Homo sapiens: one gene and its partner. The protein of the gene in region 2 purifies or fractionates together with the protein of the main gene of each other region. This does not show direct contact. Each region holds a gene or a part of one and is shown on either strand. Other genes may lie near its edges.

The links. The genes of interacting proteins can lie anywhere in the genome.
Region 1: the proteins of MTMR10 (region 2) and MTMR2 purify together in Homo sapiens (affinity purification with mass spectrometry; 5 studies listed by BioGRID and IntAct, with this or other methods). This does not show direct contact.

Annotation. Positions count from the first base shown.
Region 1 is NC_000011.10:95,922,497-95,926,319, reverse strand, and holds the start of MTMR2 (phosphatidylinositol-3,5-bisphosphate 3-phosphatase MTMR2), read left to right. Parts: upstream 1-2,212; 5' UTR 2,213-2,365; coding exon 2,366-2,445; intron 2,446-2,460; exon of another isoform or gene 2,461-2,628; intron 2,629-3,823. UniProt on the Homo sapiens protein: Lipid phosphatase that specifically dephosphorylates the D-3 position of phosphatidylinositol 3-phosphate and phosphatidylinositol 3,5-bisphosphate, generating phosphatidylinositol and phosphatidylinositol 5-phosphate.
Region 2 is NC_000015.10:30,990,087-30,993,686, forward strand, and holds the start of MTMR10 (myotubularin-related protein 10), read right to left. Parts: upstream 1,543-3,600; 5' UTR 1,421-1,542; coding exon 1,361-1,420; intron 752-1,360; coding exon 691-751; intron 1-690.

The sequences.
Region 1 (3,823 bases), on a different chromosome or scaffold from region 2:
CGCAATATTGAGAATAAGTGTTTAGGAACTTTCACGAAACTTTCAAGGAGTAATATCTGTTAAATCTAATAAACAATTTGGCCTTGTATTTTGCAAACCTTTTTCTTTAATTTTCCTAGTGCAGTTATCCCTTAGTATCTGCAGGTTATTGGTTTCAGGACCCCCAAGGATAGTAAAAGCTAAAGATGCTCAAGTCTCTTAAATAAAATGGCATTAGTGTCTACATATAACCTATGCATACCCTCCTGTATACTTTAAATCAACTCTAGATTACTTATAATATCTAATACAATGTAAATGTTATGTAAATAGTTGTTATACTGTATTGTCTTCTATTTGTATTATTTTGTTTTTTACAATTTTTACAAATTTTTCAATCTGTGGTTGGTTGAATCTGAGGATATGGAACCAACTGTGATTAATTTTTCTTATATTTTAAAAAAGTTTTGGTTGGTGATGGTTTGAAAATTAAAAACAAAACACTGTTCCTTCTTGCAGATAGTTTGAGAAAAAACAGCCCAGATTATAAATTGAAAAATTAATAACTTTTGGTGAGGTCCCAAGTTAACCATGTTTTTTCATTTTCTTAGAGTTCATTAATTAATTAGAGTTCACTAATTAATTTCCAGCTGATATTCTTTGCTTGTGTTTTCACTCTGAGAAGTTACCATTTTACCAGTCAGGTTAGAAGTCAAGCAGTAAGTTCAGTGGAAAAACAAGTAATAATAAATCTACTTAGTGAGACCGTACTGTGCAACCGACTCTGCACAGAGAAAAACAACCTATTACGTAGATATTTTTATTCCCATTTTATTCCCATTTTAGAGATGTGAAACAACTTAACCACAGCACAGAGCAAGTGTAGAGACAGAACCGGGATTCCGATGAAGATCTGTCTGGTTCCAAAGTCTCTACACTTTTACTACACTGTTCTTTATTAATCACTAGATAGAACCATACACATATTGTTACATCAGGCAGAAGGTTTCGAGGGTTCTATTAACAAAGTGCTACGAATGAACTGGGTGGAAGAAAGTACATAGGTCTCCCATTCAAGGGTTCATCAGCCTTCACTAAGGAAATTTAAGTCAAAGTAGCTGACAGTGAGTCAGCATTTTGGAAGGCAGGTAGAGATGGTGAAGAAATAAGGAAATTCTTCTATGAGTCATGATAGATATTTAAGCTTGTTAAAAAATGTTTTTGACTACCTACTCCCTTTGCCTACAGAGTCCAGTTAAGGTATCTTAAAAATTATGGAAATAAAAACAATCGGTCGCTGTCTGTCCTCGCCAAACTCAAAAAAGGCTAAGCCTTTTGTGCTTAAACACATACTCATCAGTAACTATTCTACCTTACACTGAACATAACTAAGCTAGGTTGTTCTTCTTGGGAATGTACTTGCAAGTTAATACTGCACTGCAACTATAAGGTTTTTTAAAAGACATCAGTTGTACATTATAAATTAAATCTAGTTTAAATCAATATAATTCAATTTATCCTAGCAAGGAAGTTTTTTAAGGATGGTCTGATTTTTTTTTTACAGGAATAATCTTTGCATAATTTTACACCCCATACATGAGATGATTAGGATTCAATCTCAATCAGAAAAATCCCTTTATGGTGTCCTTATGGCTTTCCTGTATCCTAACAGAAAAATCCTAGCAGAAGCATTTCCCCTTTACCCAGTTCCTGTTCTCTTATCACAGTTCTATTCCTCCACACTCCCTTCCTGCTAGGCACGGGAATTTGAAAGGGCAGGGAAAAATCGGTGAAAGTTTGTCTTCTACTTGGGTAATCCAACACCACCGCATCCAGTAGTATATAATTCTTTTTGCATGTATATCAGATCCTCCCCAATCCCTCTCCCATACCTCTTTCTCACTTTTCTCTCATTATCCGGTCCTCTTGTTTTCCTTGACCCCCACATTCCTGTCTAAATCATCCTCCTGGCCTCAGGTCCTTATCGCCTTCCTGAGACCCTCATGTTTAGTGTTCCCTCATTCCTCTTACACCTAGGATTTCTCCTCCTTCCATAAGGGTCTGGTCCTTCATCCCTCCCGCTTCACCAGACCCCCTCACCCTGGGAGCCGCCACCTCCCTTTCCCCAAGACCAGATGTCGCGCGGCCGGACACAGCCAGCACGGAGAGTCGATGCCGGCGTCTGAGCTGCGCAGTGGGGTCTTCCCGCTGCCCAGCAGCCTACAGGCGCGGTGCACTCTGGGGGAACATGGCCGCTTCCGGTCTCCCTCCCGGGCCGGCGCTGGCCTGACTGCGGCCCCGGTCCGTAGCACTCCGCCCTCCGCTTCTCCCGCCCTGTAGCCGCGAAGACTGCTTCAGCCTTTCCCTGTGCTGCCCCTGCCGCGCGATGGAGAAGAGCTCGAGCTGCGAGAGTCTTGGCTCCCAGCCGGCGGCGGCTCGGCCGCCCAGCGTGGACTCCTTGTCCAGGTAACCAGGACGCCCAGGGCCCCGCCCAGCGTCCGAAGGGGATGGAGAGGGGCCGGGGACCTGCTGGATTGTTGCCCCAATTCGCGGATTCTGGTTTCTGAAGGCTACGCCGGAATTCCTTCCCCGGGACTTGGGAACCACTTCTGCCTCCCTCCCTGGGGCGTGGAGGCTGAGGAAAAGGAGGTTAAAACTCGCTGCTTCTTTATCGATTCCTCTACCTTTCATATTCCGATCTCGTTTTCTCCCCGATGGAGGTGGTCCCAGTTAATTACTTTCTCCTGTCTTTCATTCCCTCTCAAACCTTTTTTAAGACAGTTCCCCCCGCCCCCATTCTTTTCCCCACATTTCCTGTCTTTCTCTGTCACTTTTTCCAAAACCATCCTAAAGTCAGTCTTTCCTCCTCCACCCCTTCTTATGTCTTTGGTTTTTGGGTTCTTGCCCAGCCCTTTTCTCTCTTTTCATGGCTTCACCTTCTTAATTTCTTTCATGCTTTTCTCTACACTCTGATTTTCTTCTCGCCTCCCTTTTTGCTTAAATATGTAAATAAAAATGTCTCCTGTGCTTCTCTTTTCTAAATCTTCCAGCTGAAAGTCAGTATCAAGGAATCTGAGTGGTTTTTATCCCCAGTGATAGGTTTAAGAAAACAAAATGAGTGGTAGTTTTCTTCCTTCTTGGGCTACTGGTTCTCCACGTTGTCATTTCTCTTGTAACAGATGGGAATTTTATCCTGGAATTTTGAGGAGGACTTTATGCAGCTTTGCAGAGAGCTTTTATGAATATTAACTAGACGCGTTTTGGATGCAGTCTTTTTCTTTGATTTTAAAATAATGATTTAAAAATTTTTTAAAAAATAATATAAGACCTGTATTTGCTTTTTATGCAGCCACGATGAAATCTGGTTCTTTTCCACTGAATAATAGTCTAATTGTTATTAGAGAGTGATTCGATAACTGCTGTGTGAAAACACACAATTTTCATTTTCTCCTTCAATCAGTTGAAGTGGCTCTATTATAATTCATTTTGGATTCTGCTAAATATGGGTAGTTATTGCCTTTTTTCCTGTTGATGTTCAGCACCTCACTGGGGAACCACTGTCTGATCCCGTCATTCTACATTGCCATATGCACTCATAGCTCCCTGCACAGTCGTTTTTCAGAGTCTTTAATAAGCACACTATAATTGTTGGCTTAAAGTGCCTTTTCTACCAGGTTATAAGCTATTATACTTGAGGGCAATCTTAATCATCTTCATATCTCCAGCACTTAACATAGTCTCAGCATGTGATAGGTGCTCACTAAATGGTTTTTTTTTTTTCGAATTTGTAGCCTGAATTATCCAGGAAAGGAGGATTTTTCTTTGCAGTTTGATTATATATATT
Region 2 (3,600 bases):
CTAAAGCAGTGATTCTCAACTGTGAGATTTTTGTCCCCCAGAGGTAGGGGACAAAAAAAAATTGGCAATGACTGGTGGCATTTTGGTGTGGCAACTAGGTCGCAACTAGGTGGTGGGGGATAAGGGTACTACTACTGGCATCTAGTGGGTGGAGGCCATCTTTGTTGCTATACACAGGACAGCCTGCCCGTCCAACTATGAATTATCTGGCCCCAAATGTCAATTAAGTGTCTCTGCTGGGAAAAGCCTGGTTCTAAACTGAAACAAGCAAATTTGCAAATACAGCTGACAACTTCAAAAAACAATTGCCAAGCAAGTAATTCAAAGTTCACTAAGCTCTGTTATTGGTATAGAGACACACACATAATAAAGGCGTCTTTTTATACTATCAAAATGCATTAAAATGATTAATCATTAATGCAATAAGTGGCAAACACGTCAGCAAAGAGTACTTTTACTACCCAAGCAATTAAACATATACATCTTTTCAAAAAGAAATTCGGGAGACAAAAAAGGAAATGAGGTAATGACATTCTTGACAGTTCCTTTTTCTCCTCTCAGTCACTAGACTTTTAACTGGAGAAAGTTTAATGAGAGAAGGGAAGTTAACCACATGATACTAGTCGGCAGAATAATCTTAAACCAAAATACGTTGCTAAAGTATCTGTTAGAATCCTAACTAATGTTTACCTGGCAAAAGGACTGGCTCCAGTTTTTTAATCTTCGGTTCCGAATTGATCTTATCGTCAGTCTGAAATACATTAGCAAAATAAATCAAAATCTCAATCCCCCCACCCTCCGTAAAATGCTACAGCAAATGTTGTTTTCTAAGTGATGACACATGCGAAAGACACACAGCCCCCCATTTAAATTCTTTCGCATATTAACTGAGCTGTTTTTAAGATCTGCTCATTATCGACTTGGAAGCCTAATAATAAAAAATGTTTAAACTGCCAGTGTCGCTTCCAGGTGTTCACATTTATGACAGACGGGTAACCGCCTCGACCAGTGACCCCAAGCGCTGCAATCATGCTGGCGGTCATACGAGGGAGGGTCGATGGGTTGGAAACTAAAGAAAACCCCAGCTCCCAAGGCTCCCCTGGGCCTCAACACTCCGCAAAACTACGGACGACAGAACTTCGGGCAGAGAATGGCTGCAGAAGAGTTTTACAAGTTTTCGCCGAGCCAGTGGGGGCTCCCGAGAAGGCGCATTTCGCGGCGCCGGGAATCAGGCAGCCGCGCTGCTGTGGGCAGGGAGACGCGCGCAGCCTCCTGGGGTCCTCCAGTTCCCGGGGGTCGGCCTGGAGGCTCCACGGAAGCGCAGAGGAGAGTCGGGCGCTCGCGGGGAGGGGTTGTTTACCTGGGGCGGTGGCAGGAGGTAGGACCTGAAGGTGGGTTTGGGCGGCTTGAGGGAGAACATGGTGCCGCCGCCTTTTCGCCCCGTTCCCGTCGCGGGCCAGTGGCAGCGCCGACGCCTCCGGGCGTAAAGCTCTCAGTGCGGCCGCCCAGGCCCTTTCTGCGGCCAGCCGAGCCGGGCGGACTGACGGGCGGGGATACGGCGCAGCGCCCGCCCGAGCGGGGAGGGGCCGGGCACAGCCAGGCCGACGCGGGCGCCGGGGCCCATCCCCGGAAGGGGCCCGGTGCCCCGCCCCGAGAGACGGCGCGCGCAAGGCCGCGGCCCGCCGCTCCCTGACCGTGTCCCGTGCTAGTGCCGGAACGCAGCGGTGGCGCCAGGTGCCCGCTGGCGGGCCCTCAGCCGGGGCGCCGCGGGGAGCGGAGCCCGACGGCCATCTCAAGAGCGCGGCCTCTGGAGGGTCCTTCTACGGCGGCCCGCAGGGGTCAGGCGGCCCGCGGGGGCCTACGGCGGCCTGCGGGGGCCACGGCGGCAGCGGTGGCTGCCTGGGACGGCGGCGCGGGGCGTCTTCTGGCCGGGCTGCAGTCCTGGGACAGTTCCCTTGACTTACACATGGGCCGACTTCGCCCTCCGGCCTGGGCGAGCATTGTTTTGAAGCTCTCAAGGAGGAGCTCAGGGCAGGGAAAGGTGACTCGGGTCCAGGGGTCAGGCGGTCACCCCGTCTGCGCCCAGGATGCGAGGAACCGGCACTGGGAAAGTGGGCCGGTGCCGCCAAGCACAGGTCACTTCTGAGCTCTTACGGTAATTCTGACTGGAGCAGATTTTGGTGGGAGGGGGCTAGTGGTGTTACATTTTGGTGAATCTATTACTTGAGACTAGGTCCTTCTTATACCTTGAAGAATCAAACCCCAATCCAGCATTTTATGATTAATGCCACAGGGAAGCTTCCATGCAGCCATACCAGTCACAATCACGCTGATGAGTGTTACTCACAGGAACATTTAACAATTTAAATAAAGATTCAAAAAGTTATTCTTTTTCTGAAAATAATTTATCCTGGATTTAGAACCCTACTGATCTTTCAGGTTAACCTGTTTGAATTCCACTCTGCCCAAGAACCGTAACCATAATTGTATTTTTTAGAGTCAGGGTCTCACACCATCACCTGGGCTGAAGTGCAGTGGCATGATCAGGGCTCACTGCTGCCTCCACCTCCTGGGCTCAAGTGATCCACGTGCCTTAGCCTCTCAAGTAGCCGGGACTATGGGCATGAGGCACCGTGCCTGGCCATAATTGTACTTTAAAATGTTAGTTCCATTGGATTAGAAGTGTTAAAATCACTGTCGTGCACACTTTTTAAAAAATTTTTATGAATATGCTGTTATTCCTCTATATTCAACGGATATTTTCTACAAATACTCTTTAAGCAATAATTGGCTTTTTCTTTACACTTAAATGACTCTGTGATTTGGGTTTTTCTGTACAGGTTTTCTTAGGATCTGCAATTCTAATATGTGACCATACAACTGAAAAGTGGAAAAACTCTATTTCCAGATTTATTATTGTCTTAACACTAAATTTTATGGCATTTCCCAGATATCTGGTTGTATTAGTCTGCTCAGGCTGCCATAACAAAATACCACAGGTTGATGGCTTAAAGAGCAGACATTAATTTCTCACAATTCTGGAGTATAGGAAGTCCAAGATCCAGGTGTTGGCAAGGTAGGGATCTGCCTAACTTGTGGCAGGCAGACAGGTGAGGGCTCTCTGCCGGATTTGCAGATGGCTGCCATCTCACCATGTCCTCACACAGTGCGGGGAGGGTATATAACATGCTCTCTGGGATCTCTTGATGTCTCTTCTTGTAAGGACGCTAATCCTATCAGATTAGAGCCCCACTCTTACTACCTTATTTAACTTTAATTACCTCCTAAAATCTCCAAATGTAGCCATACCAGGGGTTAGGGTTTCAACATTAGCATTTTGGAGGAACACAATTCAGTCCGTAGAACTAGTTTTATAACCTCTTCTCAGACCCTGATGCCCTTGACTACGCTGTATGTTTGGTGTTATTGCCTACCCCCTGCTTTTGGCTCTAATGTCACTGTTTTGTCCTGCTTCACCCATTTTTCTGTTTTTGTTTGTTGTTTGTTTTGTTTTGGTTTTTTTGAGGCGGAGTCTTGCTCTGTCACCCAGGCTGGACTGCAGTGGCGCAATCACGGCTCATTGCAACCTCCGCCTCCCGG